Linked DNA regions of Homo sapiens. The protein of the gene in region 2 purifies or fractionates together with the protein of the main gene of each other region. This does not show direct contact. Each region holds a gene or a part of one and is shown on either strand. Other genes may lie near its edges.

Region 1 (4,579 bases), on a different chromosome or scaffold from region 2:
GCTCTTTCTTTCACACCCCGTTCTTGGTTTGTACTCTGATGTTTAGTATTTAAATAACCATAATGCTTTTCATTACATATTTTCTTTATAAATGCTGTCTTGGATTTGGAAAAAAAAAAACTACTGGGGTTTGTAAATAGCCCTCCTTAATGTGCACCATTACTATCTATTCCGTTTCATGGTCATATTCTGTCAATAATCTATATACAAACTATAGTTTTTATTTCTGCTCTCCTGCTCTCTCCAGGAATCAAAAAGATCAGAATCTCTTATGGACATACATCATAAAAAGTTAAAGAGTAAGGCTGCTGAAGACAAAAATAAGCCTCAAGAGAGAATACCATTTGACCGTGATAAAGATCTCAAGGTTAATCGGTTTGATGAAGCTCAGAAAAAAGCCCTAATAAAAAAATCTAGAGAACTAAACACCAGATTTTCACACGGCAAAGGCAATATGTTTTTATAAGTAAGTATATTTCAGTGAGGTATATTTTAATACTGATCAATGTGAACTTTTCTAAATACTCTATTGTCTTTAATAATTGTGCTGAAATCTATTTCCTTTTATAATAGATTAAAAATTTTATATTTTTATAAGTAAACAGTGATTTTTGAAAAGTCAGCCTTGTGGGATGAAAAATATGTCTTACTGGAAAAATCCCTCATAATAACCTAATAGGGCATTGCTATTAAAAATGCTAAAATAAAAATTCAGCTTATGAGAAATGGCAAAGGAAGGTGTGGTTTGATACTTGAGTAAATATGCATGCTTTATTAAAGATGAAGAAAGGCTTGCTGGTTGTTTGTATGTTAAACAAAATCCCAACTAGGAAATGTTTGTTGCTTAGAAAGGTCCCCTATAAGTTAAGGTTCAAAACTATTCCAATATTCATCCATAGCCCAATCTGACAAGGGTTCAGAATGGTGATTAAGAAATTACATAAAGCTGGGTGCAGTGGCTCACGCCTGTAATCCCAACACTTTGGGAGGCCAATGTGAGAGGATCGCTTGAGCCCAGTAGTTTGAGACCAGCCTGCTTAAGATGGTGAGACCCCGTATCTACAAAAAACTAACCAGGTGCAGTGGAGCACACCTATAGTCCCAGCTACTCAGCAGGCTGAGGTGGGAGGATCCCTTGAGCCCAGGAATTCAAGGCAGCAGTGAGCTGTGATTGTGCCATTGCACTCCAGTCTGGGCAACAAAGTGAGACCTCGTCTCTTTAGAAAAAAAAAAAGAGGCCAGTGGCTCACACCTGTAATCCCAGCACTTTGGGAGGGTGAGGCGGGTGGATCACCTGAGGTCAGGAGTTCGAGACCAGCCTGAACAACATGGTGAAACCCCATCTCTATTAAAAATATATATATATAAAAATTAGCCAGGTGTGGTGGCACGTGCCTGTAATCTCAGCTACTTGGGAGCCTGAGGCAGGAGAATTGCTTGAACCCGGGAGGTGGAGGTTACAGTGAGCCGAGATCGTGCCACTGCACTCTAGCCTAGGTGACAAGATCGAGAGACTCTGTCTCAAAAAAGAAAGAAAAAGAGAAGAAAAGAAATTACATAAAAGCTGAGGTTGCTTCTTAATATCTTTATGATTTTTAATTGTATTAAACCTATATCAATATTCAAATGTGATTTTTGAGGAAAATATGTTAAATTTAGAAATATTTTCCAACTTACTGAGTTTTCTTATTCTTACCTCAGGGGGATTTCCCTGTGCAATGAAGAAAAGTTGAAGAATACTCTTTGTCCATCTTTATTTCTTTGTTTTTGGCTTCTTAAGATTAGAGATTACTTTAATCTTAAAAAACATACAAATTTACCTTGTTCTGTATGTCCTTTTAAGGTCATGTGGAAACATAAAACGAATGTTTTTTATGTAGAACAGAATATTCTATGTGCCTTTAGCTTCTGTGGAAGTATGGGGAATTATGGGCTTTTCTTCAAATAATTATTTTAAGAGGCTTCCATTCCCCCTGATTTTTGTGGTGTCTCACAAGTACCCTCTAAGGTCTGGTCAGGACTGACCACCAAATCTCTACCACAGCCTGGACCTCCTTGTGAAATATACCTAACCTGCCCTAGAGTCAGTGTGTCAAGTCCTTACTGTAAATCCATGACTTTGAAATTTGTTGTTTTTTCCCTTTAAACTGCAGCCAGTGAATACAAATTTACTTGAAAATAGAGGGTATGGGGTTTTGCCTGTTTTGTAATCAGTTTGCTTGTTTTAGCACTCAGGGCTTTTTATTTGTTATTTAATTTTTTAATTGTTTTTAAGTCAGAAAGATCTCTGGGTTATCTCATGTGCTAAGGAAAAACTATTTTGCTTTTTCCAACTTTAATAGTTAGTATTTCTAGGGGAGGCAATCAAGATAAGATATGCCATTAACTGTTAGCATTGTGAAATCTGTAAGACTCAATCTCTGATCTCAACCAAAGCTTTCTGAGTCCTGGAACTTTGCTTTGGGACAACTTTACTTTACCCATTTATATGCTGTACTTAACAGTTTGTAGCTAATTTATGGGGTCATATCTTTTTTTTAGCTAATTTACGGGGGTCATATCAGTCATGAATAGCCTTTTTTAAAAATTTAATAATCCCTGAATACAAAAATGGAAATGGAAAATTTATAATCATAACCCCCCTAATTGGGAGTATTATAAGTTTGTAATGCTTTAAGCACTGCCTCTTAAGATGATAAATTTATAAGATGAGAAATTCTATTTAAACTATTAAACTATTGTTAAATAAATGCCAATTCTATAAGTTATATTTTCTTGCAGATTAATCCCAATTGTTCCACTAGTATTCTAGTTTTGATGAGACACAAATTTTTGTTGTTGTTTATTTTTGTTTTTTTGAGAGATGGAGTCTTGCTCTGTCACCCAGGCTGGAGTAGAGTGGCGTGATCTCAGCTTACTGCAACCTCCGCCTCCTGGGTTCAAGCGATTCTCCTGCCTCAGTGTCCCAAGTAGCTGGGACTACAGGCGTGCACCACCATGCTCAGCTAATTTTTGTATTTTTTAGTAGAGATGGGGTTTCACTATATATTGTTCCAGGCTGGTCTCGAACTCCAGACCTCAGGTGATCTACCTGCCTCGGCCTCCCAAAATGCTGGGATTACAGGCATCAGCCACCATGCCTGGCCAAGACACAAATTTTTAATGGAAAAATATTCTGATTCCCAGTTCATGTAAGCTTTATGAAAATTGAGTATATTGTTTATATGATGGTACAAATTATTCTTCCTCTAATAATAGCAGTACAGTATATTTTTTCCATAGCATCAGTGTAAACCATAGCAAACTAAAGGAGCATTGCTATTAAAAAGATGAATTAGCTGGGCGCAGTGGCTCATACCTATAATCCCAGCACTTTGGGAGGCCGAGGTGGGTGGATCACCTGAGGTCAGGAGTTCAAGACCAGCCTGACCAACATGGTGAAATCCTGTCTCTATTAAAAATATAAAAATTAGTCGGGCCTGGTGGCGGGTGCCTGTAATCCCAGCTACTCAGGAGGCTGAAGCAGGATAATTGCTTGAACCTAGGAGGCGGAGGTTGCAGTGAGCCAAGATCACACCATTGCATTCCAGCCTGGGCAACAAGAGTGAAACTCCATCTCTAAATAAATAAGTAAATAAATAGATGAATTTTTCTCCTAAGCAAATTGAAAAAGCTTCTTGTGTACTCAAAATTGAACAGAGCTACCTTTTGACTAAAAATGTCATTTTTAATGAGCAGTATTTTCTGAACACAAAATTTTGTACAAGAGTGTCTCCATTGCATTAATTTAATTTTGTTATAATTTTTTCCCAATGAAAGGAAAAAAGTATTTTGTAGCTCCTCTTCCTTATGTAAATTCTTAACATATATTTTTGAGAAATTTGCATTTTTTAAAGTAAAATTGTTATCTTTGGATACTTACTTTTCTTTGTTTTCCTCATTTAAAGAGAATAGGGATATTTCTGTATTATATATTTACTGTTTCATCCCTCACCTTTGGAGTGACCATGACCTTGGCATGAAGGAGAGAAACCTCTGCTTTCCGCCTATTGCTTCCAGGAGTTACTACCTTACTGGCCTTGGAGATAATGCTCTTTTGTGCCAACCTGAGGATAATTTTAACAAAATGTAAGGCCAGTTTCAGAGGTTGTTTTGCCCCACAGAGAGACTAATCCCAATACAAGAATATTGACAACAAAAGGACAAAGTAGTTATTGCACAGGACGGAAAGGTGTCTTTATTTCATCCCCTCCCCACTTCCAAAGATGCAAAAGGCCTAATTGAATCAAGTCTCCTTTCCATCTGGCAGGAGACATTTTAATAAGGACTTTTTAATTTCCTACATTTCTTGGCCAAGTGTCATAGGAATGTGGCCTCTTTTGAAATTTAAAAATGAAGAAGAAAAAAAGAGCAACACTAAGTTAATATAATGGAGCAGATACTTTTAATGTTCTTACCATTGAATATGCCATTTAAGTTTGTTATACTTGAAATTATATGATTTTTGTCCAGCTCTCTAAATTGTCATCTCCAATAGATTTAGATGCTTCAAATAGTAACCACATTACTGGTAAGTAAA
Region 2 (4,811 bases):
TTGTGTGTGTGTAGATATGTGTAGTGTGTATGTATATTGAGTTGTGTGTGTTTAGTTGTGTGTAGATGTGCGTGTATGTAGATGTGTACTTGTGTGTGTGTGTATAGCCATAGCTATAGTTACAAAAACTGAGTTTCTCACCCATGGTCATTAGAGCTCAATGGGCATTTTGCATTTCATGCTTTCCCTGGGTGTAGGTCAAAATGAGATCCACTTCGTGTGTTTTAGAGCTGCATGAAAAAGGGGATTCGACCCAAAATACCTTCCTGCATGTTCCTTTACTTCATCTTCACTACTTACTTGGGAGGTAGATGGGACAGGTTGCATCATCCCTGTTTTGTCACTAAGGAAATTGACTGATTTCTCCAAGGTCCCTGGGCAGTCCCAGGATGGGGACGTAGGCTGGTACCCAGACCCTGCCTGGCATCTGCCATGTTGTTTGAACATAGTGCTGCCATCTCCAGCCTGCACCTTCCCGACGCTGCCTGTCTCTGCCTTAGGGAGGAAGGGCCTGTGCCCCAGGGTTCAGCATCCTGGCTGTCTCTGCCTCCCTCACTCCTGCCTCCTCTCCCACTCCCAGGACCTGGCGACTCCCCTGGCCTTTGCCCACAACCCGTCCCGGGTGTGGGAGTTCTACCACTACCGGCGGGAGGTCATGGGGAGCAAGGAGCCCAACGCCGGGCACCGCGCCATAGCCGAGTGTGAGACCCGGCTGGGCAAGCAGGGCCGGCGAGTCGTGGTCATCACCCAGAACATCGATGAGCTGCACCGCAAGGCTGGCACCAAGAACCTTCTGGAGATCCATGGTGAGAGACCCCCAGCCTCCCATTCAGGGAACCAGCTTTAAAACACCTGTCCTGCTGTTTCAGCATCACCTCTGGTGCCTTCCCTCCCTCCCTGCTGGACATCCGTCCTGTCCTATAGGATGCTGTGGCATTTCCTTTGGGGACATGTTAGTGTCCCGTGGCACCTGGGCAGCTGCCTTTGGCCATGGGAGGAGCCCCTGACCCACTAACATTATTCACTTAGCAGTTCCTCCATCCTCGCTGCTCAGGGTGGTCTAAGAGCCAGCAACATTTGGCGTCCCCCAAGAACTTGTTAAAAATGCAGAATCTCAGGCCCCATAGGCCCCACTGAATCAGAATCTGCATTTTCCCATGAGCCCAGGTGGCTGGCGTGCTTTTTATACTGGAGGAACGCTGGGGTGCACAGCTGCGTGACCCTTTCCTCTGTGGAGGGGCACGGTACTGTGAGACAATGGCCTCAATGAGCTGAGGAATAAGAGGCCTGGCCCATTGGACAGCTGGGGCTTGAGCAGGAGCAGACTGCAGCATCTTGGGGTCTCCTGTCACTCCCCCTTCATCCTGGTGGGCACTCCCCACTGAGGCTGTGCTTCTGCCCCGCCCTGGAGCCTCAGAGAGCTGCCAGCTCAGTGCTGGACACTGCACCAAGCCCACCAAGCCTGTGATGTCGGTGGACCCCACTGAGGCTGTGCTTCTGCCCTGCCCTGGAGCCTCAGGGAGCTGCCAGCTCAGTGCTGGACACTGCACCAAACCCACCAAGCCTATGATGTCGGTGGAGTTTGTCTTGGGTCCCTCTGGGCTCCTTCCTCTGTCCTGGGTAACCCCTCACCCCTTCACTCTTGTCTTCTGGCTCCTCCCTTCTTTGCTGTCACCACAAATCTAAAACATCCACTTGTCCACAGTCATAATGGGCAAACTAGGGTTTCCCCCAAGGCCATTTGCATTTAAAGAGTCTGCATTCAAATCCAAGGAATGCATTTCTTATTTTTTAAGCATTTATTTCTCTTAATTTAATTTAATTTAATTTTTTTTTTTTTTTTAGCAATGGGGGTTTCACTCTTGCCCAGGCTGGGGTGCAGTAGCCTGATCATAGCTCATTGCAGCCTTGAACTCCTGGCCTCAAGGGATCCTCCCACCTCAGCCTCCAGAGTAGCTGGGACTACAGGCACATGCCACCATGCCCAGCTACTTTTTAAAATTTTTGTGGAGAGTGTCTCACCATGTTGTCCAGGCTGGTCTCAAACTCTTGGCCTCAAGCAGTCCTCCCTCCTCAGCCTCCTAAAGTTTTGGGATTACAGGCTTGAGCCACTGTGCCAGCCAAAAATGCATTTCTAAGTGTAGCATTTCCAGAAGCAGTGCACCAGTCGGGGGTGTTTGTTTTTGCGTGTGTGTGGTGAAGCTGCCTGCTTTTACTTAGATCACCCTGATAAGGAAAGCGAGGCACTACTCATTTCGACTGTGTCTGTCTTTTGTTCATCAGGAACAGCCAGCCACCTATTAACCGAGCATCTTTTTGGTACCTACATCTGCTGGGTCTGAGCCACTTTCCATGTGCCTCTGCTGATTTCCCTGCAGTGTCAGAATGTGGGCTATGTCATCAGCATAAAACCGAGATGACAATGCCTATCTTATAGAATTGTTGTCGGGATTAAATAAGATCATATATGTGTGTTAGTCAGGACTTTTTAAAATTTCAAACGATGAGAACTCTCTTCTAACTTAGGTTAAAAAAAATCAATGGCATCTTCAGTCTGATGAAGGGTTTTTTTTAAGATGCATCATGTTTTTAATGTGGCATTTAGAATATAATCTGCCTAAACCATGATATACTATTTTATTATCCCTTAGAATTATTCTATACTTAGAGAAAGAGCTTGTTAAAACTTAGACACGTTCTTTAGAAATTATATCTTTCCAGGCATACATAAAGTATGAGTATGATAAACTGGTCCAAATATTTCTCATTATCTAGCTCTTCTAAATGATTCTGAGTGACTCAGAGCACGGATGTCTGTGTTTTCCATGCAGTTTCATGCTCTGTGTCTCGGGAGATGGATGATGCAGCGTTTCCTGAGAGAATGCCCCTCTGTTATAGCTGGGATTCTCATCCAAGCTCCTGACACACCTTCCGCAAGTTCGCTATTGGGCCTGACATGTTCTTACCAAAAGGCATCAGTGGAAAGGCTGTAGACAACAGCCAAAACTTGCTTTCCTTCCTGAAGTGGCCCTTGAAGGGTTTGTTGGCGGAAGGATCCAGGGGCTGAATCTGCCCGGTCAGGCCACGGAGAATAACAACAAAGTCACCCCATTTTTCAGTGTTCTCCTTCAACAAGTCTGTGCAAGCATGATGATGATGTTACAGTCTCATCTGGCCAGTAGCAATTGTAGGACACATCTGAATTTCAGAGATGTGAAAATGGGGAAAAATGTCTATGCTAAAACTGACAAAGTAGGTTTATTGGCTCACAAAACTGAGGAGCCTAGTGGTGCAGCTTATGTCATCTTTCCTCCCGGCCCCTGTCCCCCTCCTTCTTTCAGCTTTGCTCACTCTTTGAGGTGGCCTCCCTTCTCTCTCTGCAATTGATCTGTCTCCACGCGCCAAGGGAGAGTGCCTCCGACGGCTCCAGCTCAGCCACCTGCTCAGAAAATAAACCTCTGGGTAGGCTTGCTTGGTCCACACGCCCACCCTTCTGACCAAACACGACTGCAGAGGGATGGACACCACATGGGGGCCGTGCGCAGCATGTGGCTGAGCTTGTATTTGGGATGTGACCCACAGCCCTATTGGCTCAGCATGCGAGAGAGCAGGGATGGTGCTCCCCAAGGAAGGACTGGTGGGCAGGACGGAGCAGCGCATGTCCACTAGGGTTGAAAGTGCTCTGCACGGCACCAGTTGCCTGGTACCCATTTCATAAACTGTGGCCACCATGATTGCTTCAGCTCAATAAGTGGTGGTTAGTATTAACAATTACTTTTTTCACTTATTAGTTGATTACTTATTTATTGAGGTGCTTTTGTATAAAAGATTCAAGCTTTCTGAAATCGAAGTTAAAATTTTGTAAACATATCCCACGCCATTGAACCTTTGTCAGTCATGTCAATAAATCACGCCCTTAGATTTAGGTTGAGCTCCCTCTACCCTATTGGCAACTTCTGCCCACTTGAACACCACTCCAAGGTCATCTGATGGCACATTAGTCATGGAGTTATTTATTTTTCCTCCAGATTATAAAGTCCTTGAGGGCATATGCTCTTGACTGGCTTAAGAGTACTGCATGCCTCTGTTTCCCATGAAAGCTAAAGCTAGGGTAGGCCCATTTGCTAAAATGAAGTATGGCTCAGTGTGGCGGTGCACACCTATAGTCCCAGCTGCTCAGGAGGCAAAGGTGGGAGGATCGCTTGAGCCCATGAGTTGGAAGCTGCAGTGAGCTATGATCGTACTGCTACACTCCAGCCTGGGTAACTGGGTGAGACCAAAACATGAAATGAAGTGTGAAAAATAAAGTATCTTATACCCTTTTAGACATGGAGAAGGTTGCTCTTGATTATACTAAATTCTGGATTTGCTTCATATGTATTTTTCAGGTAGCTTATTTAAAACTCGATGTACCTCTTGTGGAGTTGTGGCTGAGAATTACAAGAGTCCAATTTGTCCAGCTTTATCAGGAAAAGGGTAATTATACCACACTACAGAATAAGTATAGGTTGTTTTCTCCTTTAGGTTGAACATAAATGTGAGGAAATTGAACATTCATCAAAGATTCCCATGGATATTTATGAGAAATAAGACTAAATACAAGGCTGGGTGCAGTGGCTCATGCCTGTAATCCCAGCACTTTGGGGTTACAAGGTGGGGAGACTGCTTGAGTTCAGGAGTTCAAGACCAGCCTGGGCAACACAGTGAGAAACCTGTCCTACAAAAAAACAAAACAAAACAAAAAACCACAAAAATTAGCTGGGTGTGGTGGCACATGCCTGTAGTCCCAGCTACTAGGGAGGCTGAGGTGG
Region 3 (4,811 bases), on a different chromosome or scaffold from region 2:
GTCTTACAAGTCTGAGAATAAATTTTCTCTCCCAGATCCCATGAAGCTCTAACAAGTTCTAGTCTGAATCATTCTGATTACTGGCCACAGCCTCTTTTTTTTTTCCTTCTTTCTTCATCCTCTTTAGATGTATGGTGGCATGAGAGGCATGAAGGGATTGGTCTATGAAACATCAGTTCTTGATCCTGATGAGGTAAGACATCTTCATGTCAATTACTAATAATCATTGAGTTTGTGCAAATACGCAAACCGTGGATTAGACCAGTAAGGGTAAGCACAAAACAGAGCACCTAGCTTCATATATTGGAAGGTAGAGAAGACATATGTATGGAATAATTGAAGAACAAATTTACCTTTTAAATATATCAACTAGTAAAAATAAAAGTACAAAACCAGAGGTAAGTTATGTGAAGATTTAAGCTTAATTTAAAGTTCTGTTCTGGACTGGGCGCAGTGGCTCACACCTGTAATCCCAGCACTTTGGGAGGCTGAGGCGGGCAGATCATGCGGTCAGGAGGTTGAGACCGTCCTGGCTAACACGGCGAAACCCTGTCTGTACTAAAAACACACAAAATTAGCCGGGCATGGTGGCAGGCACCTGTAGTCCCAGCTACTCGGGAGGCTGAGGCAGGAGAATGGCGTGAACCCAGGAGGCGGAGTTTGCAGTGAGCCGAGATCGCACCACTGCACTCCAGCCTGGGCGACAGTGTGAGACTCCGTCTCAAAAAAAAAGAAAATTAAAAATTGTATTCTGGGCTAGGCATGATGGCTTGCCCCTGTAATCCTAGCACTTTTGGAGGCCAAGGTGGAGCATTGCGTGAGGCCAGAAGATCGGGACCAGTCTGAGCAACATAGCAAGACCCCACCTCTACAGAAATAATAATTAACATAAAAAGTTCTACTCTAACTTGTTGTAAGGTCTGATGAGTAAGACCAGTCGTGTGACTTCTAGGCTATAAACTTGAGTTGTAATTCTCTCTCTCCTCTCTCAAGGGCATCCGTTTCCGAGGCTTTAGTATCCCTGAATGCCAGAAACTGCTACCCAAGGCTAAGGGTGGGGAAGAACCCCTGCCTGAGGGCTTATTTTGGCTGCTGGTAACTGGACATATCCCAACAGAGGAACAGGTAAAGCAGAAGGATATTATTAGCTCTTCTCATTCCCCTTCTTCATTGCCTTTCTCTAATCTCAGACACTTAATGCTGATCCGGCATTTATAGAGATGCGTAGTGAAGGGAAGGAATCAGCAGAGTTCTGCTGTATAAATGGATTGGGTTGACCTCTCTTGGGTTTTCTTTACTCAGATGTTGCTGTCCTTTTTTATTTTTCTCCTTCCTTGTCCTTGCTGGTGTTCTGAGCACTGTCTCTTTTTCCACAGGTATCTTGGCTCTCAAAAGAGTGGGCAAAGAGGGCAGCTCTGCCTTCCCATGTGGTCACCATGCTGGACAACTTTCCCACCAATCTACACCCCATGTCTCAGCTCAGTGCAGCTGTTACAGCCCTCAACAGTGAAAGTAACTTTGCCCGAGCATATGCACAGGGTATCAGCCGAACCAAGTACTGGGAGGTAGGAAATTTGGGTGGGGTGATCGGTGTGTGATGGGGATTCAAAGGACTTGAGTGTGAAGGGAGGGAAAAAATACAGAATCTTTAGAAAAATTACCTCTGAGTTAATCAGAAACTAACTTAACAGATTTTCATTGGAGGCTTGTTTTTTGTCAGTTGTTGGAATTACAAAGCTAAGTAGAGCATGGTTTCTATCACCAGGACTGTTTGTTTGGTTAGGCTGACACACGTGCAGAAAAAAGAAATTATTAAAATTCCATAGTCGGCCGGGCACAGTGGCTCATGCCTATAATCCCAGCACTTGGGGAGGCCAAGGCGGGCAGATCACGAGGTCAGGAGTTCAAGACTAGTCTGGCCAATATGGTGAAACCCCATCTCTACTAAAAATACAAAAATTAGCCAGGCGTGATGCCGGGCGCCTGTAATCCCACCTACTCAGGAGGCTGAGGCAGAAGAATCACTTGAACCTGGGAGGTGGAGGTTTCAGTGAGCCGAGATCGCACCACTGCACTCCAGCCTGGGCAACAGAGTGAGACTCCATCTAAAAAAAAATTCCATAGTCTTGCTGTAACAGAGGTATGTACACATGGCTGTTGAAACGGAAAAGAGACCTAGGTAGGTGGCTCACACCTATAATCCCAGTGAGTCATGATGCTGAGGTGGGAGGATTGCTTAAGGCCAGGAGTTTGAGATCAGCCTGGGCAACATAGTGAGATCCTATCTGTACATAAAAAAGGAGAAAACAAGAAAAGAAAAGGATGTGACTTAACTGCAGGGTCCCTGAGGAAGGTTTCACAGAGCAGTCTCATGCTAGCACCAGAGGGTCACTTTCCCTCACTATCTTCTTCAAATACAGAAAACTTTGAGAAATCTTACAAGTTGGGAGAACAGCAATTGCAACTCTGGAGTCTAGGAGGACTAATGCCAGTCAGTCATGTTCTCGGCTAGCCAACCTAAGATACCCATCAGGAGTGGGAGAGTGGTTAGTATCCTTGGAGTAGGCTCCAGATCCAGAAACAAATGAGCTTTATTCTCTGAAAATGAAAAGTGTCCTTAATAGTTTACAACGCTGGTTGGGGTATGGAAAGATTGTTTCTTATCCCAATGCATAGTACATAATTCCTTCCATCCTCTTCTAGTACCCCACAAACTCAGAAACACTGGGTAAAAGTACAAATGATCTGGCTAGGTTTACAGGAGAATGTACCATTTTCTTTTGTTCCTTATTTGGAGATAGGTAGTATAGGAACAGAAAATTTTCTTTTTACAAAGCAGGTACATTAAATGATTTTTGGCCAGGAGGTGCCAGCCACCAGGAAGGCCCTAAAGAGTTCACTGTGGTGCAAGACACAGAAGAGCATGACCCACTGCTCTGATGCAACCACCTTGGGTCCTTGGCAAATCTAGATTGATTTAGTTGGTCAATATTAATTTGGCACCAACTGTGTGTAGAGAATTGTGTTTGCAGTTGAGGAAGACAGAGAGCATTTAAAATTGATATTAACTTGGTTGGCATTGGGGAGTTGGTATCAGAATGATGCAAAATATACACATTCACACCACATAAAGCATTTATTTATAAAGGCTTATTTATAAACACTTTAGGTGGTATGAATGTGTATATTTGTACCTGCACACATTAGCAGGTACAAAAGGTCATATAATCTTAATATTTTGTTTTTCATTTTATTTATTTATTTATTTTTTTGAGATGGAGTCTCGCTGTGTCACCCAGGCTGGAGTGAAATGGCATGTGAACCACCGTGCCCAGCCATTTTTATTTTTATTTTTTTAGAAATAGGTCTCTCTCTAATCACCCAGGCCAGGATGCAGTGGCATGATCATAGCTCACTGTAACCTTGAACTCCTGGACTCAAGTGATCCTCCTGCCTCAGCCTCCCAAGTAACAAGGACTACAGGCACATGCCACCATGTCTAGCTGGCATTACAGGCGCACACCACCACTCCTGGCTAATTTTTTTGTTTTTTTTTTTTGTTTTTTTTGGGAGACGGTGTCTTGCACTGTCACCCAGGTTGGAGTGCAATGGCACGATCTCAGCTCACTGCAACCTCCACCTCCTGGGTTCACACAATTCTCCTGCCTCAGCCTCCCGAGTAGTTAGGATTACAGGCGCACACCACCACACCCAGCTAACTTTTTGTATTTTTAGTAGAGACAGGGTTTCACTATGTTGGCCAGGCTGGTCTCGAACCTCTGACCTCGTGATCTGCCCACCTCGGCCTCCCAAAGTGCTGGGATTACAGGCTTAAGCCACCACGCCTGGCCTTGTCTTTTTAATAGAGTTTCACCATGTTGGCTAGGCTGGTCTAGAACGGCTGGTCCAGAACTCCTGACCTCAGGTGATTCGCCCACCTCTTCCCCAAAGTGCTGGGATTATAGGCGTGAGCCACCACCCTGGGCCTTTTTGTTTGTTTGTTTTGTTTTGTTTTTTGAGATGGAGTCTCGCTCTGTTGCCCAGGCTGGAGTGCAGTGACACAATCTCAGCTCACCACAACCTCTGCCTCCTGGGTTCAAGCGATTCTCCTGCCTCAGCCTCCCCGGTAGCTGGGACTACAGGTGCGCACCACCACGCCTGGCTAATTTTTGGTTTTTGCTTTTTTGCTTTTGTTTTGTTTTTTTTTGGTTTTTTTTTTGAGATGGAGTCTCGCTCTGTTGCCCAGGCTGGAGTGCAGTGGTGCGATCTCAGCTGATTGCAAGCTCCGCCTCCCTGGTTCAAGCAATTCTCCTGCCTCAGCCTCCCGAGTAGTTGGGACTACAGGCACCCGCCACCATGCCTGGCTAATTTTTTGTATTTTTAGTAGAGTCGGGGTTTCACCGTGTTAGCCAGGATTGTCTCGATCTCCTGACCTCGTGATCCACCCGCCTCAGCCTCCAAAAGTGCTGGGATTACAGGCGTGAGCCACCGCGCCTGGCCTTGTGTTTTTAATAGAGACGGGGTTTCACTGTGTTGGCCAGGCTGATCTTGAACTCCTGACCTTGTGATCTGCCTGCCTCGGCCTCACAAAGTGCTGGGGATTATAGGAGTGAGCCATGGTGCCCAGCCTTCTTGAGCTTTTAAGGAGTTGTTTTTACATATACCTTAAGAGGATGATCTTCTGCACAGAACATTTCTTCTATAATAATTTCCATTAACTCTAGATGAATAGTGTAATCTCTTGAGTTGAAAGAGTTTAACTAGCTTCTAGGCCTCTAATTGACTTAAGGTCACTCAGAACAAGGAGATTG
Region 4 (4,811 bases), on a different chromosome or scaffold from region 2:
TGTCAAACTCCTGACCTCAAGTGATCCCCCCACCTCAGCCTCCCAAAGTCCTGGGATTATAGGCATGAGCCTCCACACCTGGCCTTCAGCTCAGTTTGAATTGGAAAGTTGTTTTTTTTTTAAACTATTGAATTTTGAGAATTCTCTATATCTTCCTGTCTTAGTCCATTTTTATTGCTATAAAGGAATATCTGAGGCTGGGTAATGTATAAAGAAAAGAGGTTTATTTGTCATGGTTCTGCAGGCTGCACAAAAAGCATGGCACCAAAAACTGCATTGGGTGAATGCCTCAGGCTGCTTCTGCTCTTGGAAGAGGATGAAGGGGAGCTGTTGTGTGCAAAATCAGATGGCCAGAGAGGAAGCAAGAGAGAGAAAAGAAAGGGCCAGGCTCTTTTTAACAACCATGTCTCATGGGAACTAAGAGTGAGGACTCATGCATTCCCTCTGAGACTGGCACCAGGCTGTTCATCAGGGATCTGCCCCCGTAATTCAAACACTTCCTACCAGGCCCCACCTCCAACACTGGGGATCAGATTTCAACCTGAGACTTGGAAGGGCCAAACCATATCCAAACCATAGCACTTCCAGGTATTAGTCCTTTGTTGGATAGGTGGTTTGCAAATGTTTTCTCCCAGTCTCATAGCTTGTCATTTTATTCTCTTAAGAGGGTCTTTCATATAGGAAAAGTTTTTCTTTTGATGACGTCAAATTTATCAGCTTTTGTTTTTATGGATTGTACTTTTGGGGTCAAGTCTAAGAACTCTTTGTATAACCCCGTATTCTGAAGATTTTCTCGTATGTTTTTTTCCCGAAAGTTCGATAGTTTTATATTTTATACTTAAATCCATGATCCATTTTTTTTTTGTTTTCTTGAGACAAGATCTTGCTCTGTTGTTACCCAGGGCTAGAGCATAGTGGCACGATCAAGGCTCACTGCAGCCTCAACCTCCAGGGCTCAAGTGATCCTCCTATGTCAGCCTCCCAGGTAGCTAGGACTATGGGTTGCACCACCACAGCTGGCTAATTTTTTTCTTTGTTTTTTTTTTTTATTTTTTGAGACAGGGTGTCACTCTGTCACCCAGGCTAGAGAGCAGTGGTGCAATCATTACTCACTGCAGCCTCAACGTCCCAGGCTCAAGCGATTCTCCTGCCTCAGCCTCCCAAGTAGCTGGGACTATAGGCGTGCACCACCATATCCAGCTAATTTTTATATTTTTTGTTGAGACAGGGTTTTGCCATGTTGCCCAGTCTTGGCACATTTAATTTTTTAAAAAGTTTTTTGGTTGGGCCTGATGGCTCACGCCTGTAATCCCAGCACTTTGGGAGGCCGAGGTGGGCAGATCACGAGGTCAGGATATCGAGACCATCCTGACTAACACAGTGAAACCCCGTCTGTACTAAAAAACACAAAAAATTAGCCGGGTGTGGTGGCAGGTGCCTGTAGTCCCAGCTGCTTGGGAGGCTGAGGCAGGAGAATGGCATTAACCCGGGAGGAGGAGCTTGCAGTGAGCCAAGATAGCGCCACTGCACTCTAGCCTGGGTGACAGAGTGAGACTCCGTTTCAAAAAAAAAAAAAAAAAAAAATCTGTAAAAATGGAGTCTATGTTGCTCTGGCTGGTCTCGAACTTCTGGGCTCAAAAGATCCTCCCACCTTGACCTCCCAACCTGCAGGAATTACAGGTGTGAGCCACTGCACCCAACTTCGTGATCTATTTTGAGTTAATTTTTGTATAAGGTGTGAGGTTTAGGTCAATGTTCATCTTTCAACTTTTAATACTAGTTGTTCCAGCATCATTTGTTGAAAGGCTGTTTGTGATGTTTTGAGTTGGCTAGCTCCTTGATATCACCTAAATCTTATCAGTAGTCCATTTCCAAGCTTCATTGCAAGATGACTTGCCAATCAACTAATCAAGCTTGTCATTAGACAGAAAAATCTCTTTCCTATTAATGTAGAGTATAAGGGCTGAAAGTTCAGGTTTTGGAACCAGTTCCTGGGTTTTTAAAACTAGCCCTTCTGCTTATGAAGTAACTTCGTAGCTTAAAACAACTGTCTGTTTAGGTCACAATTCTGTGGGATGGTATTTTGGACTGGGCTCAGCTGCACAGTGGTTCTGTGTCTGTGTCAGGTCTCAGATTGACTTAGGGCTGATTGTTGGGGATGAAGGGGCCTCTGCTGGGATGATACATCATGTACATTCCCTGTGGCTTCTCATTCTCCAGCAGGCTGTTCATTGCTGCTTTGCATGATGCTTGCAGGGTCCCCAGAACAGGAAGCATGGTAGCTACAAGTCCTCTTGAGATGTAAACTCAGAATTTATGCACTGTTCCTTCTGCCACATTTGTCAAAGCAAGTTACGGGGCCAGCTCAAATTTAAGAAGTTTGGAAGATTGACTCACCTGTTAATGGAGAAGCTGCAAAAGGATTGTGGCCATTTTTGTAATCTGGCAATGCTGGTAAATTACTCAGTTACTCTGAGCATCAGTTTCCTTATTTATAAAATGGGGATAATAATAATAATGAACTCATAATAATACCTAACTTATGAGGCTTAATTCATGAGAATTCAGTAAGATGATGATGATGATGATGATGATGATGATGATGATGATGATGAAGGTAGAATATGGAAAAGCTCAAACTATTTTTCCTCTGCTCTCACTCCATAACAACAATCAACACAGAAGACTTCTGTGACCAAATGTACGGGGTTGCAGTGGACATCAGTTGGGTATCCTCCAATTCAATTCTGACACTGTCTCCCTGAGGACAGCCCACAGGTTGAGGGCTCAGTCCCTCAAGATCATCCCCATCTTCCTAGTAGTCCTGAGTCCAGGCTTCTGGAACTTCTGACTGACTGGCTTCAAGTTGGGGTTCCCACAGTACCCTCTTTGGGCTTGATTGATTTGCTAGAGTGATGCAGAGAACTCAGGGAAACACTTAGATTTACCAATTTATTACAAAGGAAACAGATGAAGAGATATGTAGGGTGAGGTGTGTGGTAAGAGGCACAGATCTTCCATGCCCTTCCGGGGCACGCCACCCTCCAGGAACCTCCACATGTTCAGCCATCTGGAAGCTCTCCGAACCTTGTCCCCTTGGACCTCTTATGGAGACTTATTGGATAGGCATGATTGAAGCATGGGCAACTGTGTCGAAATGTGATTGAACAAAAAGAATGTGACCTGATACTAATAGACTGAGTGGGGTAACCCAGCAAGGCCTGTCTGTTCAGATTTTGTCTTGGTCTTCCTGTGCAATATTTCTTCCTCCAAGGTATGGGGCAGGACCCTCTCTGGACTGAGGGTCTTACAACCCACAATCAAATTAGAGTCCTGCCTTGAGTAGGTGAAAGGAGTTCAGGAGAATACCAGAGAGATTCTGTTTCCTTACACCAACATTATAACAAAAGACTGTAAAAAGGATTATTAGAGTTATAAGCCAGGGACCATGGATATATATGTCATGTCACAGTAAGTAACACTTTTTTTACAGTACCAGTTAATATTCATTGAGTATTTTGTGCCAATCTCTGTTCATGCATGAACTTGTTTTATCCACCCTACCAACCTTATGAGATAGTTAAGGAGACAGCAAGTAAGTGAAGGGGTTGAAATTTCACTCAGGCAGTCTGGCTCCAGAGCCAACACTTGTCCTTTTTACTCCTGTAGAAGGTGTATGAATACTTAGCACAACTCCTGGTATATAGTAAGTGTTCACTTCAGTATTTTTATTGATACTTATCCTCATTAGACTCATTCACAGAAGGAGGCACTTTCTAATTGTTTCCCTAGGTTTTTGAATTTGGGGATTTGGATTTTTCTGGAACGTGGAGCTCTTTCACTGACCATGATAAGCAGAATAGCAGAGGGAAAAAAAAAGAAAAGAAAGGCAAAATGAGAACGCTTGTGGAGATAAACAGAGAAGGCAATGGAAGGCCAGAGAGAAAAAGAGTAGTCATGTCTGGGTCCCTTCTTGTTGAGGCCTGGAACACAGCCTCATTGGTTACTGGGCATAAGGATTCTGATGCTGAAGAAGTAAAGGGTTCTCCTCTGTCAGAGTGGTAAGAGTATAATCCGTGGCCCTTAAGAAGAACATGGACAACCCCTCCCATCCCCCACCATGCCACATCTGTACACACATACACTTCAGTATGCCCTCATACCTACTAAGAGGGGACAGATTTTCTTTGGAACTTAGAGCCTAAAAGTTCCTTAGAAGATGGGAAACAATTATTTCTCTAGAAGCCTTGAATTTTCCTAACTAATCAAGGCCTTCTCAGTTTTCAATATGGACCCTAACAAGTATAATACATTGTAGAACATTAAAAAAATACCCCCAAGAAAGGTAGGGTCAGCCTTGGAAGGTAAAAGGCGTTGTTCAATAGGAAACCCAACAAGCCCTGAGTCCCCTGAAGCTCTCCTTTGTGCTAGAACCTACTGGATTTGACTGAGTCAACTGCATGAAACCTTGTTGTTAGTGGTGACCTCCTCTTGAACCCTAACAGGCCTTATCTACTGCTGTTACCCTATTGTCTCCAGCCAGAATGACCCTTGACTACCTGGCACTGAACCATGCGACCCACCCTCTTCTCCTGATACAGACTGTGGGTTAGCCTCCTTCATGCTAGCCTGGCTGCTGGATTCTGATTGGCTTCTACCATTTGATCACCTGGACAGACATGCATGCCACTGCCTGTGTTCCTGAGGTACCCTCTCAGGCTGCTCCACCCATGCTCACCACCCTTCCAGGTCAGGATAGGCCCTCCAGCAGACAGGAGAGAAAGCCAGAAAGCCTAGATCTGACAGCTACC
Region 5 (4,811 bases), on a different chromosome or scaffold from region 2:
TTAAAATTAGGCTGGCACGGTGGCTCACGCCTGTAATCCCAGCACTTTGCGGGGGTCAAGGCAGGTGGATCACTTGAGGTCAGGAGTTTGAGACCAGCCTGGCCAACATGGTGAAACCCTGTCTCTACTAAAAATACAAAAAATTAGCCAGGTGTTGTGGTGCACACCTGAAATCCCCGCTACTTGGGAGGCTGAGGCCCGAGAATCACTTGAACTCGGGAGGCGGAGGTTGCAGTGGGCTGAGATCATGCCACTGCACTCCCACCCTGGGGGACAATAGCGAAACTTCGTCTCAGAAAAAAAAAAAATTAAAAATAGCTGGGTGTGGTGGCATGCGCCTGTAGTCCCAGCTACTTGGGAGGCTGAGGTCAGAGGATCACTTGAAGCCAGGAAGTCAATGCTGCAGTAAGCTATGATGGCATCAGTGCATTCCAGCCTGACCAATGGAACAGGACCCTGCCAAGAAAGAGAGAGAGAAAGGGAGGAAGGAACGAAAGGAAGGAAGGAAGGAAAGAAAGGAAAGGAAGGAAAGAAAGGAAAGGAAGTAAGTAAGGATGGATGGATCCAGGTGCTCTAAACCAGCAGTTCCCAAAGTTTTTGGCACCAGGGGCCAGTTTCATGGAAGACAATTTTTCCACGGGTGGCAGGGTGGTGGGCAGCGGGGATGGTTTTGGGATGAGTCAAGTGCATTACATTTATTGTGCACTTTATTTCTATTATTATTACATTGTAATATATAATGAAAAAATTATATAGCTCACCATAATGTACAATCGGGGGGTCCTGAGCTTGCTTTCCTGCAACTAGACAGTCCCATCTGGAGGTGCTGGAAGACAGTGACAGATCATCAGGCATTAGATTCTCATAAGGAGTATGCAACCTAGATCCCTCGTGTGCGCAGTTCCCAGGCATGAGCTCAGGTGGTAGTAGTGCTCACTCACCTGCAGCTCTCCTCCTGCTGTGTGGCCCAGTTCCCAACAGTCCGTGGACCTGCACTAAAGGCTGTGGCCTGGTCTGCTGACCTCTCTCCAGAGCCCACGGTACTAGTCCATGGCCTGGGAGTTGGGGACCCCTGCTCTAAGCAGTGAGGGAGCTGATTTGCAGACGGGGGAGTGGACACCGGGCAGCTGGAGCCCTGGCTTTCTGCCACTGTCTCCTGGTGAAGGGCGGGCCTGGCTGGGAGGAGAGGGCCCCCCTCCAGCCTCCCCAGGGGCATGATGCGCTGTGTGTCCCTGCTTCTAGATGCCGACAAAAGGATCAAGGTGGCGAAGCCCGTGGTGGAGATGGATGGTGATGAGATGACCCGTATTATCTGGCAGTTCATCAAGGAGAAGGTAGTGCCCCCTCCTGAAGTGGGTGGCTCTCCAGGTGGGCTGGCCAGGGATTGTTCTGTCCCACAGGGTCTTCTGGACTGCAGGTCCCTAGGACCCCCCCGTTGTCCTGGTAGGCAGCAGCAGCTCTGTTTCTCTCCCTCTGTCTACCCTTCTTTCACATCTGGTCCACTAATTGTTCAGAAGTCGTCAGGCGGGGGCCTGTCCCCAGCAGTCCGTGTTGTGATGGTGCCAGATCCCACACGTTCTGTCAACTTTGAGAAGCTTCAAGGTTAATCCTGTATCATTTCCATCTTGATCCCCTACGTTTTGCCTCACTTCTTGAAAAGGAGTGAAAAGGGAACAGGGCTGGTGTGTAGGGCAGTGACCCAGCCTGCAGTTGTGACGAGCCACCATGGCAAAGGGGTCCCAGAGTGGCCGCTTGGCTTCTCCAAAGTTGCCGTGGTCTATGTATGTCCAGGAGAGCATGTAGTCCTTGTGAAGGCCCCACACTGTGTGTGCGTTCATGGGACAAAGGTTGAGAACTGTCACTTCCAACTGTAAGATCTCAAAGCACTTGAGAAGAGGAAACCAGTTGTATAGAGAAATCTAGATGTACTTGGGGTTGGGGTTTGGCTGAGTTGATGGGCCATGTGAGGGGGGCACACAGGCACAGTGGAGGAAGAACCCTCCAAAAGACTGCGGCCTGGCCTGCCAACCTCTCTCCAAAGCCCCAGCCTCTGCCAGCTCTGGCCAGGCCCCACTGAGAAATGGCTGACTCCAGCTTTCTGCTGCGCCCCTCCACTGGCCTTCACTCATCCCTGTTTTGACTGACTGTCCCCTGCCATGGCCTGCAGACTTCTTATCCTGCCCTTTGTTGTCATGTCCCTGAGTCACTGGGGTGACGCCTTGCTCTGGCCCTCTGTCCCCAGCTCATCCTGCCCCACGTGGACATCCAGCTAAAGTATTTTGACCTCGGGCTCCCAAACCGTGACCAGACTGATGACCAGGTCACCATTGACTCTGCACTGGCCACCCAGAAGTACAGTGTGGCTGTCAAGTGTGCCACCATCACCCCTGATGAGGCCCGTGTGGAAGGTGCGAGGGTGTGGAGGTGGGCGGGCCAGGGAGGGTCACAGGCTTCTCCCACCGGCCTCTCCAGACTTGGGGTGGGGCAGTTGGCCATGTCACTCATCTCGGGACTGGGAGGTTGGGAGGCTCCAGAGCTGGGGCTTTCCTGAGGCCAACTGCACCTGAGGCCAGTCTCCCTGTGTGTGCCTGGTGGACAGTGGGGCCTCAGAGGTCACCTTTGATGAGGCTGGGGCAGGCGTGGGTAAGGGGCTGGCCTCAGGTTCCACGGTTAGGGCACAGCAGAGCTGAGAACAGAATCCATGTCTTCCATCTCCCAGGCCAGTGGTGTTTCTGCTTCACTCTGGCTCTGACAGTGGTAGGTGTCATCGGTGACAGGGCTGAGGAGGAGGAGGAGGAGGAAGGTAATGCTGATGTGGTCACAGTAAGGATGGCTTCTTTGGGCAGTAGTCCATTCTGGCGTGGACAGTCTTGCAGGCAGGTATGCAGAGAGATTGTGCAGAGGAGTGCTGTGTGTAAGGCCTGTGTCCTTCAGAGCCTCAGCAGCCTCTGGGGAACATTGCTGTTGCCCTCCTGCCACTGGCTTGGCCTTGCAGGTCTGCCTCTGTCCCCATGGTCATGCAGGGTCACTGAGAGGTGCCCCCACCAGGCCTAGACTGGCTTCTGGTCCTTGGCTGTTGGGGCCGCTCTCGAGGGTTCCATGAAGTCACAGCAGTGTGTGTGCAGAGGGGCCAGGTTTGGATAATTCGAGAAAGGATGGTTGAGGAGTTTTCTGAGCTCTCTCTTCCTACTTTCCACAGTTGGAGGGAGCTGGCGGAAAGTACTCGAGATACATCTGCAAATTCCCCAGGCCTGCCCCTGTCCTGCAGGTCATGCCTGACCCACAGCACTGGGATCATTTGAGTGTTGAGCTCTTCATTTCACCTGAACCTTGGGAGTTGTGTATCCCCATTTATGGACAAGGCAGGAGAGGGTCACAGCCTTAGGAACTGGGGTGGCGTTGGGGCCAGGACCGGAGCATGTGGAGTGGGCAGTGTGTTGTCAGGCTTCGTCAGACAAGTCCTTCCCCCGGACTGTACTCCCTCCATGTGTGATGTGGGAATCATAATGGCCAACAGAGCACTTAGCATGGACCGGGCACCGTTCTAGGCCCTTTACACACGAGCTCATTTCGTCCTCACGACAACACTTAGGCTGGTTATTTTTCCAGTAATTTTTTTTTACAGCTTTGGTTGAGCCACTTTTGTAAGCCTCACCATTAAAACTGGCAGACTTGCTGGGCATGGTGGCTCACACCTGTAATCCCAGCACTTTGGGAAGCCGAGGCGGGTGGATCACCTGAGGTTGGGAGGTCGAGACCAGCCTGACCAACATGGAGAAACCCCATCTCTCCTAAAAATACAAAATTAGCTTGGTGTGGTGTCACATGCCTGTAATTCCAGCTGCTCGGGAGGCTGAGGCAGGAGAACCGCTTGAACCCAGGAGGCAGAGGTTGTGGTGAGCCGAGATCGCGCCATTGCACTCCAGCCTGGGCAATAGGAGCAAAACTCTGTCTCAAAAAAAAAAAAAAAAAAAAAAAAATTGGCAGACTCCAGAGCCCACACATTTGCACTCTAGACTCTACTGCCTTCCTCATGAAGAATTTTAGGACCCCCGTCTGGCTGTGTTGTTGCTTGGGGTTCAAATTCTGGTTGAAAGATGGCGGCTGCAGTGGGACCACTATTATCTCTGTCCTCACAGAGTTCAAGCTGAAGAAGATGTGGAAAAGTCCCAATGGAACTATCCGGAACATCCTGGGGGGGACTGTCTTCCGGGAGCCCATCATCTGCAAAAACATCCCACGCCTAGTCCCTGGCTGGACCAAGCCCATCACCATTGGCAGGCACGCCCATGGCGACCAGGTAGGCCAGGGTGGAGAGGGGATCCACTGACCTGGGCACCCCCCGACTGGAGCTCCTCGCCTAGCCATCCTCTTGTCTCTGCAGTACAAGGCCACAGACTTTGTGGCAGACCGGGCCGGCACTTTCAAAATGGTCTTCACCCCAAAAGATGGCAGTGGTGTCAAGGAGTGGGAAGTGTACAACTTCCCCGCAGGCGGCGTGGGCATGGGCATGTACAACACCGACGAGGTGAGGCTGGCTTGGGCATCCTGGGCCCCTCCTCTCCCAGCTTGTCTCTTCATCTCTGTCTCGTGGCTTTCCTTTCTTCTGTAATGGCCTCATTCTTAGGCCACAAAGAGGCAGAAATGGCCACCAGGGCTGGGCATGGTGGCTGACACTTGTAATCCCGGCATTTTGGGAGGCCAAGGCAGGATTGCTTGAGACCAGAAGTTTGAGACCAGCCTGGGCAACAGTGAGACCCCATCTCTTGAAACAAAAAGAAAAGAAAAGAAAAGAAAAGAAATGGCCACGA
Region 6 (4,811 bases), on a different chromosome or scaffold from region 2:
GTGTCACCATCTCAGCTCACTGTAGCCTCGACCTCCCTGGCTCAAGTGATCCTCCCACCTCAGTCTCCTGAGTAGCTGGGACTACAGGCACACCTGGATACATTTTTTTGGTATTTTTTGTAGAGACGTGATTTTGCCATGTTGCCCAGCCTAGTCTCGAACTCCTGTGATCGAGCAGGCGCAAGCAATCTACTGTTGGGCCTTGGCCTCCCAAAGTGCTGGGAGGCCACCACACCCAGCTTTTTTTTTTTTTTTCCTCTTCTTAAAAGAGACATGGGCAGGGTGCGGTTGCTCACACCTGTAATCCCAGCACTTTGGGAGCCTGAGGTGGGTGGATCACTTGAGGTCAGGAGTTCGAGACCAACCTGGCCAACATGGAAACCCCGTCTCTACTAAAAATACAAAAAATTAGTCAGGCCTGGTGGCACACACCTGCAGTCCCAGCTACTCAGGAGGCTGAGGCAGGAGAATCGCTTGAACCCAGGAGGCAGAGGTTGCAGTGAGCAGAGATTGTGCCACTGCACTCCAACCTGGGTGACAGAGTGAGACTCGGTCCAAAAAAAAAAAAAAAGAGAGACGTGATCTCTCTGTGTTAACCAGGTGGACTTGAATTCCTGGGCTCAAGCAGTCCTGCCTTAGCCTCCTGAGTAGCTGGGACTACAGGCACATACCACCATACCTGCTTCCCTCCACCCCCATAAGGTGAATTCATTTATTGCCCTTGGGAGTTAGGGGGCGGGAGCATTTTGATTTTGATTTTAAATGAAAATTTGAGCTGCTTGGGAGGTAAACAGTGGGTACACATGGACATACGGAGTGGAATAATAATTGATCATTGATAATAATTGATCCCATTTTGAATACAGAGATAGACCCCTTTTGAATATTTGTAAGTTTTTGCCTGTCAATTTTTTCTTTTTTTTTTTTTTGGAGACAAAGTCTCACTCTGTTGCCCAAGCTGGAGTGCAGTGGCGTGATCTCAGTTTACTGCAACCTCCACCTCCCGGGTTTAAGCAATTCTCCTGCTTCAGCTTCCTAAGTAGCTGGGACTGCAGGCACACGCCACCATGGCTGGCTAATTTTTGTATTTTTAGTAGAGACAGGGTTTCACTGTGTTGGCCAGGCTGATCTCGAACTCCTAACCTCGTGATCCGCCCACCTTGGCCTCCCAAACTGCTGGGATTACAGGCGTGAGCCACTGTTCCCGTCTGCCTGTCAAATTTTTTACCTTTTTAAACTTTTATTTATTTATTTAGTTGTATTTTTAGTAGAGATGGGGTTTCACCATGTTGGTCAGGCTGGTCTTGAACTCCTGACCTCGTGATCTGCCCGCCTCGGCCTCCCAAAGTGCTGGGATTACAGGTGTGAGCCACCGCGCCCAGCCACTTTTATTTTTATTTTTAATTTTTTTTTTAAATTTATTTTTGTCACCCAGGTTGGTTGGACAGAGCAAGAGACAGGATCTTGCTCTGTCACCCAGGCTGGTGTACAGTGGCATGGGAAGGCGTGAGCCTGAGAAGGTGTGAGCCACCTCACCTGGACTTTCTTATACATTAATTAATTTTGTATAGTTTTATACCTGATGTTATTTGAAATTAGGTAACATGCTGTAGTCTTTGCAATAATCCAGAGACACTTGTGTGATAATTGAGTCTCACTCACCATAACAGTAATCTTGGCAAACACAGTTGAATACACTAAAAGCAAAAAATTATGTTGCCATTGGTTTCCCTTTCTTGCCCTTCATTCTTGTGCTGAAATTAAAGTTCTTAGAGTTTGAGCCCTCCTTTTCCTAAACCAAGAGGATTATTCATAACATAGTTTAAAGGATAATTTTGTTGATTTTTTTTTTCTAAACTCTTGAATAATCTTGCTTTAAGGGAAACTTTGGAATAATCCTTTCAGCAAATTGGTGTAGCAGGCACTTGTGCTGGACTTAGGAATCCAGTCCTTTTAGAAAACAGTTATGTCAGAAGTTCCTTTATTGTACAGCTCCAAGTATTTGCTTAGCACTTAGTAAAACGATAATGTATATGTATTATTATTCTTCCAATACAAGAACCACATGACCTCTTTTTTTTTTTCTGAGACCGAGTCTCGCTCTGTTGCCCTTGGCTGGAGTGCAGTGGCGCGATCTCGGCTCACTGCAAGCTCCGCCTCCTGGGTTCACGGCATTCTTCTGCCTCAGCCTCCCCAGTAGCTGGGAGTACAGGCGCCCGCCACCATGCCCAGCTAATTCTTTGTATTTTTAGTAGAGATGGGGTTTCACTGTGTTAGCCAGGATGGTCTCGATCTCCTGAACTCGTGATCTGCCCGTCTCGGCCTCCCAAAGTGCTGGGATTACAGGCATGAACCACTGCGCCTGGCCTGTGACCTCCTTTTACTAGACAGTTTGTCTTTTAATTTGACAAATAATGAATTTAATTCAGCTTTGTTTATAACATACTGTCTTGTATATTGGAAGAGTTTTATAAAAACGTTTAAGAATGAGGAGAACTTTTGTAGCAATCACGTCTCAAAATGTATCTACAAGTTTAGCTACCTTTTGGCTTTTTGCTGTATTAACAGTTATACTATTGAAAGTGTATAGCTGAGCAGGGCGTAGTAGCTCACATCTGTAATCCCAGCACTTTGGGAGGCTGAGGTGGGCGGATCATGAGGTCAGGAGTTCGAGACCAGCCTGGCCAACGTGGTAAAACCCCCGTCTCTACTAAAAATACAAAAAAATAGCTGGGCATGGTGGCGGGCGCCTGTAATCCCAGCTACTGAGGAGGCTGAGGCAGGAGAATCATTTGAACCTGGGAGGCGGAGGTTGCAGTGAGCCGAGATCGCGCCATTGCACTCCAGCCTGGGTGACAGGACTAGACTCCGTCTCAAACAAAAACAAAAAAATAAAATACAAAAATTAGCTGGGTGTGGTGGCACACACTGAGGCAGGAGAATTGCTTGAACCCAGGAGGCGGGGGTTGCAGTGAGCCGAGATCTCGCCACTGCCCTCCAGCCTGGACAACAGAGCCAGACTCCATCTCAAGGGAAAAAAAAAGTTTATTCTTGAAAGGTCACAGAAAAACTACCATCTGAAATATCCAGCTGGGTATGCTAGCTATAGTCCCAACTCGTTGGGAAGCTGAGGCAGGAGGATCACTTGAGCCCAGGAGTTCCAGACCAGCATGGGCAACATAGCAAGACCTCCTCTCTACTAAAAATTAAAAAAACGAGCCTGGTGTGGTGGTGTGCATCTGTGGTCCTGGATACTCAGGAGGCCGAGGTGGGAGGATCCCTGAGCCCAGGAGATAGAGGCTACAGTGAGCCAAGATTGTGTTACTGCACTCCAGCCTGGGTGACAGAGCAAGACCCTATCTGAAAAATAAATAAATAATTGGCTGGGCGTGGTGGCTCACGCCTGTAATCTTGACACTTTGGGAGGCCGAGGCGAGTGGATCACTTGAGGTCAGGAGTTCGGGACCAGCCTGGCCATCACGGCAAGACTCCATCTCTACTAAAAATACAAAAATTAGCTGGGCGTGGTGGTGCATGCCTGTAATCCCAGCTACTCGGGAGGCTGAGACAGGAGAATCGCTTGAACCCAGGAGGCGGAGGTTGCGGAGGTTGCAGTGAGCCGAGATCACACTACTACACTCCAGCCTGGGCAACAGAGCGAGACTCTGGCTTGAAAAAAATAATAAAATAAAAATAAATAAATAAATATTAAACTCTCCAAGTTTCTGACCTCATTGTTTTGACCCCATGAGAGGAAGTATACCTCAAAGACTAATCATGTCTTCATGCCTTCAACTGCAGTGACTGCAGTCGGTTCTCAGACTTCTTAATTTTAATGCCCTCATGTTAAAGGAAAATGAAATTCTAGTTTAGTGAAGGTTTGCAGGAGTTTTCTGGCCACTTGGTGATTTCTTATAGGTCGACAGAGAATAAATACTTTATAGCTTCATCTATCTAGGCATCATTTAAATTTAGGACTGGTTTCCTGGGCATCGAATTAAACAAAGATAATGTAGCAATACTTCCATAGATAACTCTTTTCAGGCAGTTTTGTCAGTTTATGTATTACGTAAATGTCATTAACTTCACTTGATTGCATCTGATTGTATTTTGGAAAATCCTGGACATGAACATGTATTTAAGTCATTATTGCAAATTACAATAAAATCGTGCATGCATTAGTAGAGTACTACTTGTTGCACAACAGAAGTCATTGGAAGCGTTGCTGAGCAACCTCAGTGAGAACGAGCTACATTACCAATAAACATTTCTGGATCTTATTTACTTGTTTATCAAGTAGAACTAATTTCTTGCAGGACAGAAATTAGGAGCTCATTGTAGCCTTCATTTAATCCCACAAAATCCCCGTTAAGTGTTAAGTGCCCTTGCTAAGGGTAGATTCTTAAACTTAACACCTAGTTGATATTTGCTATTATCTAAATTATTAAAGTCAAGATTTGCTTAATGGTTAAGTTTTTTTGTTTTAATCCAGCTATGTTAGATACTAAAGAAGGCTTCCCCACAACCCATATGCATCTGCTTTGACTGGTGGTTTCTATCATCCTACAAAGACTGTGACTTATTGGTGAGGGCAGCTGGACAACTCTGAGAGCAACTTAGAGAAATCCATCTTGGGCACACTCTATAAAGGAGCTCCTTCTCTGCAAATAGCACCCCAGATAAGTGCACAAAAGCAAGATACCCTCGTGGACCTACACGTCCTCCCGCTTTTCAACACCCTGATGCCTGAAGGTGAGGTCTCTTTCCTGTGTGTCTTAGAAGCCATGAGCACGCTTAGGTAACTAGAGCCC

What was found.
Region 1: the proteins of SIRT5 (region 2) and GPALPP1 purify together in Homo sapiens (co-immunoprecipitation; one large-scale study listed by IntAct). This does not show direct contact.
Region 3: the proteins of SIRT5 (region 2) and CS purify together in Homo sapiens (affinity purification with mass spectrometry, with the first as the bait; one study listed by BioGRID). This does not show direct contact.
Region 4: the proteins of SIRT5 (region 2) and ALDH18A1 purify together in Homo sapiens (affinity purification with mass spectrometry, with the first as the bait; one study listed by BioGRID). This does not show direct contact.
Region 5: the proteins of SIRT5 (region 2) and IDH2 purify together in Homo sapiens (affinity purification with western blotting, with the first as the bait; one study listed by BioGRID). This does not show direct contact.
Region 6: the proteins of SIRT5 (region 2) and UNK purify together in Homo sapiens (co-immunoprecipitation; one large-scale study listed by IntAct). This does not show direct contact.

What each region holds. Positions count from the first base shown.
Region 1 is NC_000013.11:45,027,538-45,032,116, forward strand, and holds the end of GPALPP1 (GPALPP motifs-containing protein 1), read left to right. Parts: intron 1-247; coding exon 248-466; 3' UTR 467-2,768; downstream 2,769-4,579.
Region 2 is NC_000006.12:13,591,089-13,595,899, forward strand, and holds part of SIRT5 (NAD-dependent protein deacylase sirtuin-5, mitochondrial), read left to right. Parts: intron 1-580; coding exon 581-806; intron 807-4,388; coding exon 4,389-4,476; intron 4,477-4,811. UniProt on the Homo sapiens protein: NAD-dependent lysine demalonylase, desuccinylase and deglutarylase that specifically removes malonyl, succinyl and glutaryl groups on target proteins.
Region 3 is NC_000012.12:56,279,174-56,283,984, reverse strand, and holds part of CS (citrate synthase, mitochondrial precursor), read left to right. Parts: intron 1-127; coding exon 128-193; intron 194-993; coding exon 994-1,125; intron 1,126-1,376; coding exon 1,377-1,565; intron 1,566-4,811. UniProt on the Homo sapiens protein: Key enzyme of the Krebs tricarboxylic acid cycle which catalyzes the synthesis of citrate from acetyl coenzyme A and oxaloacetate.
Region 4 is NC_000010.11:95,646,125-95,650,935, reverse strand, and holds part of ALDH18A1 (delta-1-pyrroline-5-carboxylate synthase), read left to right. Parts: intron 1-4,811. UniProt on the Homo sapiens protein: Bifunctional enzyme that converts glutamate to glutamate 5-semialdehyde, an intermediate in the biosynthesis of proline, ornithine and arginine.
Region 5 is NC_000015.10:90,088,076-90,092,886, reverse strand, and holds part of IDH2 (isocitrate dehydrogenase [NADP], mitochondrial isoform 1 precursor), read left to right. Parts: intron 1-1,242; coding exon 1,243-1,334; intron 1,335-2,242; coding exon 2,243-2,408; intron 2,409-4,139; coding exon 4,140-4,300; intron 4,301-4,384; coding exon 4,385-4,528; intron 4,529-4,811. UniProt on the Homo sapiens protein: Plays a role in intermediary metabolism and energy production. It may tightly associate or interact with the pyruvate dehydrogenase complex.
Region 6 is NC_000017.11:75,787,268-75,792,078, forward strand, and holds part of UNK (RING finger protein unkempt homolog), read left to right. Parts: intron 1-3,519; exon of another isoform or gene 3,520-4,811. UniProt on the Homo sapiens protein: Sequence-specific RNA-binding protein which plays an important role in the establishment and maintenance of the early morphology of cortical neurons during embryonic development.